Homo sapiens: one gene and its partner. The protein of the gene in region 2 purifies or fractionates together with the protein of the main gene of each other region. This does not show direct contact. Each region holds a gene or a part of one and is shown on either strand. Other genes may lie near its edges.

Region 1 (3,389 bases), on a different chromosome or scaffold from region 2:
TCTCAGCAAAACTCACAAAATTATGGCTTCTCATTGTAGCTTTAACCCTGTTCAGGTTCTGCACAGCCTGTCATCCTCACCCCCTTTCTAACTGAATAGCCAGTAGCTATTTAGCAGCTATTTAACTTAGTTACAACTACACTGCTGAAATGATTGGTTGACCTCTCAAGTAAACAATTAGCTGTAACTTCTCCCTCAGAAGAAAATGCTGTTCTATCCCAGAGGCTGGCAAATTATAGCCCATGGGCCATCCAATCCACCAATTTTTTTGTGGACTGTGAGCTAATTCTATTTTTTAACCTTTTGGATGACTGGGGGGCAAAGGAAGACAAAAAAAGAAATAGTAATATTTCATGTGTTATTGTGGAAATTCTATGAAATTCAAATTTCAGTGCTTACATATAAAAGTTTTACTGAAACACACCAAGTTGACTCATTCATGTATCATCTATGGTTACTTTCTTGTTATGGTGGCAGAGGTGAGGAGCTGTAACAGAAACCATGTGGCCCACAAGGCCTTTAATATCTACTTACTCTCTGGCTCTTTACAGAAAAGTGTTTCAACCCCTTTTCTATTCTGTATTTAAGATGCCTCAATTACTACAGCTGTTATATCTCTAAAATGTCTCAATTCTCCCAAGTGCCTTATTTCTAGGCATGTGTTTTGCTACATGCATGCAAATCCAACATAAGAATCCAAAAAAGAATCACAAAGAGTGATTATTATAAAGATTCACAACAGTATTCCCTTAAACAGTAAAAATCCACTAAGCAAGCTTACTATGTCTCAGGCACTGTTCAAGGAGCTTACAACCTAGCAGACGGAGAAAGATAATGATACACTAATATTAGTGACAGGGTAAAGCCTAGCAGCAAAGGAGAGAAGTATAACAAGAAGAGGCTACATACAGAGACAGGGAAACACCATCTCCCATGGACACCCAGAGGCCATACATAGTAAGGAGTTTGGAGATTATTTTAAGTGCAGTAAAAGCCAGTGGAGCATATTAAGCAGGAGAGGGGTGTGCTGCCACTTAAGTTTTATCATTCTGGCTGTTGAGGGCAAGCTGTGGAGAACAGAAGGAGCAGCAGGGAGGCATTAAATAAGGGGGCTGTTACTGAGCACCAAGTGTGAGATAATCAGATGTCAAGGCTTGGGCCAGATTACAGCAGCAATGGAGACAGGTGTTCAATGCGTGAATGTGGACTGTATTTTGGAGATAACCCAGACAGAGAAATCTGGTTCACAAGAATTCCACATATAATCTTAAGGACTAGATCGTTTTTTCTAGAGATAAGGTCTGGCTATATTACCCCGGTTGGCCTTCAATTCCTGGGCTCAAGCAATCCTCCTGCCTTGGGCTCACAAGTAGCTGGGATGACAGGTGTGTGTCACCATGCCCAGCTAGGACTACATCCTTTTCAGCAGGTCCACATAGATCTTTCTGTGTTTAAGAAATTTAAACCCAATTCCTATTAGGTTCATTTCAAATTAATTTAAAAACCGAAGAATGCTTATTAAGTACCTGATATACTGTCTACAATGTTACTGAGAAGTCACTCCCAAACTGTTCTCATGTTTTTGAATAGGTATCAGCGTGCCTGGCACATAAATGGTGCTCAATAAATACTTGCGGAAGGAAGACAAGATAAGCAGCCAGGTTGGAAAGAAAAAAAAATCCATAAAGGAATATTGACATTAAATGCTAAGTGATGTCACAAGGATTTAACCTTTTTGTTCTCTTTATGTAGATAAAGTATACGCAATTACACGAAATCCTACAGATGTCTCGTAGTTCTCAAAATTCTTCATTTGTTTCTCCTCCACTTCTTTATACAACTAAATAGTAGAAAGAGCCAAGCAATGTGCACAGTAAAATTTCTACTGCAGAGTAGTTAAAAGTATCACTACTCAGCAATGTACTGTACTATTCAAAGAGTGCTAAGTGTTTTCCTCTCTACCCATGACGCAAGTTCTCGCTCCTTCTGTGGGATGTGATCTTGGCTTCCTTCTTTGGACAAAGCCAATCCAGAGCACACTGCATCACCACACTCACTTATCAAGAAAAGGCCAATATTATCTAATATACGTGAAAATAAAACATGAAGATATATGGCATTATTTTCCTTTGTGCACAAAAACAAATTTTTTTTCCAAGTGCGACTGTTTTACTAAAGAAAACCAATTATTATTTACCTTTACTCTTAAATTTAATAAAGAAGACAATTATCTACTACTGAATCTGAACTCCCAGCTCTCTTTTTTTCTTTCCCTCTTATGATTAAATGTATTTGGTTCCATTTTTCCACCTGTAAAATGGACATATGACTTGATGCCTTCTCTTAGTAGCACAGGAAGTTCTATATAAATAATTACTACAGGAAAGCATTCAAAACAAACATATACATACATATGGAACTATTCTCTCATTTAAAATCTTTTGGTCTTTAAGTTCTATTTTGTGGAGGTGTGTAACACTCGTGTAGTACTTTTGGGGTTACAAAATGCTTTCTAAACATGTGCTCTCAGTAAAACATATTAAAGGCTAGATGGATTTCCTTTAAGAAATATTTTTCAAAGTATCAGCATTATCTACATCAGCTAGGGTGTTTGTTTAAAAGGAAAGTGCCTGAGTCCCAAGTCAGACCTGATTTTGTTGTTTCTAAAAGCAACATTTTATTTTCTAGTTTCCATTATCTATTATAATAGGAAAGAAAATGTACCAAACTGACAGGTGACTCTTGCCTCCGTGGTGCTTTCCTTCCCTCCCCTCTCCCTCAAACACAGATTACTTTGTGGGAGACTTCAACCCTGTCTTTCACTCGCCATCACTGGTCTCCTCTGCTTTCATTCTAAGGAAAAGGAAACTGAACTACCCTTAAAGTGAAACGTAGATTCTGAGTTAGGCATACTACCTTCAAGCTCAAGAAAGAATCCTAAAACCTCCTAGATCTCAATTACCTTCAAGTTTTTAAAAAAGATTTCCTGCCACTTGCTGGCTTCAAAGAGCCTGACCAATCAGAAAGACAAAGTCTTGGGAGAAAAATCAGGTTGACTGAGACACAGGGAGTATTCAGAAAGAAACCAAGGAGGAAAGACTCATGATATCATTAAATATTGGCAAAACCACTGAAGTATGCGTTGTAAAAACCCCAAGAATACAGAATTCTAAAAACTAGGCTTATGGTTAAAATAGTTTGACATTATAAGGATTTTAAATTATGTTCCTTAATCTTGCTGATGTTCATTTAGAATAGATCACCTTTATTCAGGCAGCTACCGCTTATGCAACACTTTTCATAATCTTTTAAAAACTATTTTTAAACATTTTTTCATAATCTTAATAAAATCATTTGACAGTTCCGCTTAGCTGAAATGATACAGCCTA
Region 2 (3,464 bases):
GGCTGAGGCAGGAGAATGGCGTGAACCCGGGAGGCGGAGCTTGCAGTGAGCCGAGACTGCGCCACTGCACTCCAGCCTGGGTGACAGAGCGAGACTCCGTCTCAAAAAAAAAAAAAAAAAATACAAAAATAAGCCGGGTGTGGTGGCACGTGCCTGTAATCCCAGGTACTCCAGAGGCTGAGGCAGGAGAATCCCTTGAATCTGGGAGGTGGGGGTTGCAGTGAGCCAAGATTGCACCACTGCACTCTAGCCTGGGCAACAGAGACTCCATCTCACAAACAAAAACAAAAAAAAGGCTTTTTTTTTTTTTTTTGAGATGGAGTCTCACTCTGTTGCCCAGGCTGGACTGCAGTGGTGTGATCTCAGCTCACTGCAACTTCCGCCTCCCAGGTTCAAGCGATTCTCCTGCGCCAAGTTGCTGGGATTACAGGCGCATGCCACCACACCCAGCTCATTTTTGTAGTTTTAGTGGTGACGGGATCTCACCATGTTGGCCAGGCTAGTCTTGAACTCCTGACCTCAAATGATACGACCACCTTGGCCTCCCAAAGTGCTGGGGTTATAGGCGTGAGCCACTGCGCATGGCCTAACACCTCCTTTTTTAACTAAAAATATCCTGACCCACTAGTAATGAGACTAACATTATTTTAAAGTGTTTATTTTTTTCTATAATACATTTCATTCAAATCATAAAAGTCTGATACATTTTTTTCTCAAGAACAACTTACACTCATTTGAGATGCTTTTTCTTTCCTTTAATCTTATAGGATGGACAAAGATACACTTTAATGGACAAAAAACACCAGAGTTCATTACAAATACAGCTTCCCAGGCCCCACCTCCAGCACTTCTGACTGAGCGTCTGGGACGCATCCTAGGATCGCAAAACTGTAAAATTCCCCCAGTCAACTCCACGGCAGGCAGGCCTGGAACCACCCTTAGTGGAACACTGCTTAGGACTTGTCTGTTATCTACCAGAAGCAATTTCAGAAAATCAGGAGTAATTACGTATACAGAAATAGCTCTTCTATAAAATTTCCATATAAAAATAATGGCATTTATTTACAAAGTCTGAGATACTACAAAATAATATATCATATTAGGTTGTGTACTTCAATCTAATAAAGGAAAGTCTACATTGGGCAAGTCAGATGTGGTGGTTGCATTTTCCTCTTATCTCTCTTGTTTAAATTGCTTAAAGCATGTGGCACCACGATGTATCCTTCATGCAGAAAAAAGGAGAACTATATTTTCTGGAAATAAAACCCAATAGCACATAGTCAGAGTAAAGCATTTTCAGATGAAAAGGTGAACAACCTAGTGGTTTGGGCTCATGGCCCTTTACCCACCTTTTTTTTTTGAGATGGAATTTCGCTCTTGTTGCCCAGGCTGGAGTGCAAATGGCACGATCTCAGCTCATTGCAACTTTTGCCTCCTGGGTTCAAGAGATTCTCCTGCCTCAGCCTCCCGAGTAGCTGGGATTACAGGCATGCGCCACCACACCCGGCTAATTTTATATTTTTAGTAGAGACAGGGTTTCTCCATGTTGGTCAGGCTGGTTTCGAACTCCCGACCTCAGGTGATCCGCCCGCCTCGGCCTCCCAAAGTGCTGGGATCACAGGCGTGAGCCACTGTGCCTGGCATACCCACCTCTTTTGTCCAAAACTCAAGAGTGATGGTGGTGAACCAAGTGCGTGAAGGAACTCAGTACTGAAACGTGATCCCCGGAGTGCAGCCACCTGGGCAGCCAGTGCATATGGTTAGTGGGTGGTTCCATTTTTCAGGACACTGAGAGGTTGAACCTGCCATGGAACTACTGGGAAAACTAGAACTGCAACAAGCCCAGAGGAGCTATTCAGGAGAAAAGTAGCCCCATTGTCAGTGACGTTTTAGTATGAAAATCCTGGCCCCAGTGTGAACAAGCACAATCGCCAGGCCATGTGACATGAAGCTCGGCCATGGTGAAGTATGGTAAGTGACAAATGGCATGCATTGAAGCACGACAAGGGATGAGTTTTTAAATCCAAACGTGATCTGGGGAATTTTCCGTTATGATTCGACAGACATGGGCAGCACCAGCTGGTGTGGTGTGGAAGGACCAGTTGGTCACTGAACTTCTTGGGCCCCTGCCAATGGCCAGCATGGGGAGCCCTTGTCTGTGGAGGTCTCAGCCCGGGGTTTTCTGACTTGAGAGAGGCCTAAACCTGACACCACAGCCTCATGCTGGGGCTCGGGAAAGGAGTCCCACTTCTACCCCTCAGCTGTTTGGCACTTGGTGACACAGGACTGATGCTAATCCAAAACCCATCTGGGAGGACTGTGGTGACAGCGTGGCCCTCACGGAGGGAAGAAGCTCTGGGTTTTGGTGCAGGCTCTGCCACAGACAGGCTGAGGGATGGGAGGCAAGTCAAGCTCTTGCTTGTTTCCCATCTCTAAATGAGCAGGGTGGGAGCGATGTTATCCCCGATCCTGAGACCTGCGGCGAAGGGGCGAGGCCTGACCCTGAGCATCAGCTACGTTGGCCTCCAATGCAGCTATAAGCAGTGAAGACCAAAGTCTAACCTGCTGAAACAGCAAGGGGCAAGACAGCATTGACTTCAACAGGCCTTTTTTGTAAAGCAAAAGGTAAGATGACAAGATCCGGTCTTGTCTGAGAACAGCTGCACAGAATACACATTATAAATGAGCACTTTCTCCTATCTCAGCACCCTGGTGAATGGGTGTCAGAGAAGTTTCTGGACCTGTCAGGGACTCCCAGGGCTTAGCCAGAGGGTCAAAGTGTTGTGCCCACTCACTTTTTCTTCTTTAGCATACTGTGGAGTGAGACATGTGGGAAAATCGGATCCCAGAGATTACCTAAGCATCACTTCTCAGAGACGTTTTGGTTAAGGGACTACTTCCTGAGAAACGTTATAATTTATGTGGGTATTGAGCTTGAATTTTTTTTAATCATAAAATCTTAGGCTGGGCGTGGTGGCTCAAGCCTGTAATCCCAGCACTTTGGGAGGCCGAGGCAGGCAGATCACATGGTTAGAAGTTCAAGACCAGTGTGGTCAACATGGTGAAACCCTGTCTCTACTAAAAATACAAAAATTAGCCAGGCGTGGTGGCACATGTCTGTAATCCCAACTACTTGGGAGGCTGAGGCAGAAGAATCGCTTGAACCCGGGAGGCAGAGGTTGCAGTGGCTGAGATCATGCCACTGCACTCCAGCCTGGGCAACAGAGCAAGACTCCATCTCGAGGGGAAAAAAAATATTATGCAAACATCAGGTTTTTCTCTTCTTAGTAACCATGTTTGGCTTGAGTGGAAATTTAATCAAACACTGTTATCAACTGGGAATTTGAGGGCAGGGAGGCACATTGCTGAGGGTCATTCAAATGGCATGGTGCAGGCTCCTGATACATAGTGTGGGTCTTTGGGAAATGCATATTAGTTTTCATCAGTGCTTGGGGACCATTGCT

Evidence for each region. The genes of interacting proteins can lie anywhere in the genome.
Region 1: the proteins of TFDP2 (region 2) and CYRIB purify together in Homo sapiens (affinity purification with mass spectrometry; one large-scale study listed by BioGRID and IntAct). This does not show direct contact.

Annotation. Positions count from the first base shown.
Region 1 is NC_000008.11:129,842,295-129,845,683, forward strand, and holds part of CYRIB (CYFIP-related Rac1 interactor B), read right to left. Parts: intron 1-3,389. UniProt on the Homo sapiens protein: Negatively regulates RAC1 signaling and RAC1-driven cytoskeletal remodeling. Regulates chemotaxis, cell migration and epithelial polarization by controlling the polarity, plasticity, duration and extent of protrusions.
Region 2 is NC_000003.12:141,943,786-141,947,249, forward strand, and holds the end of TFDP2 (transcription factor Dp-2), read right to left. Parts: 3' UTR 1,254-3,464; coding exon of another isoform or gene 1,225-1,253; 3' UTR 643-1,224; downstream 1-642. UniProt on the Homo sapiens protein: Can stimulate E2F-dependent transcription.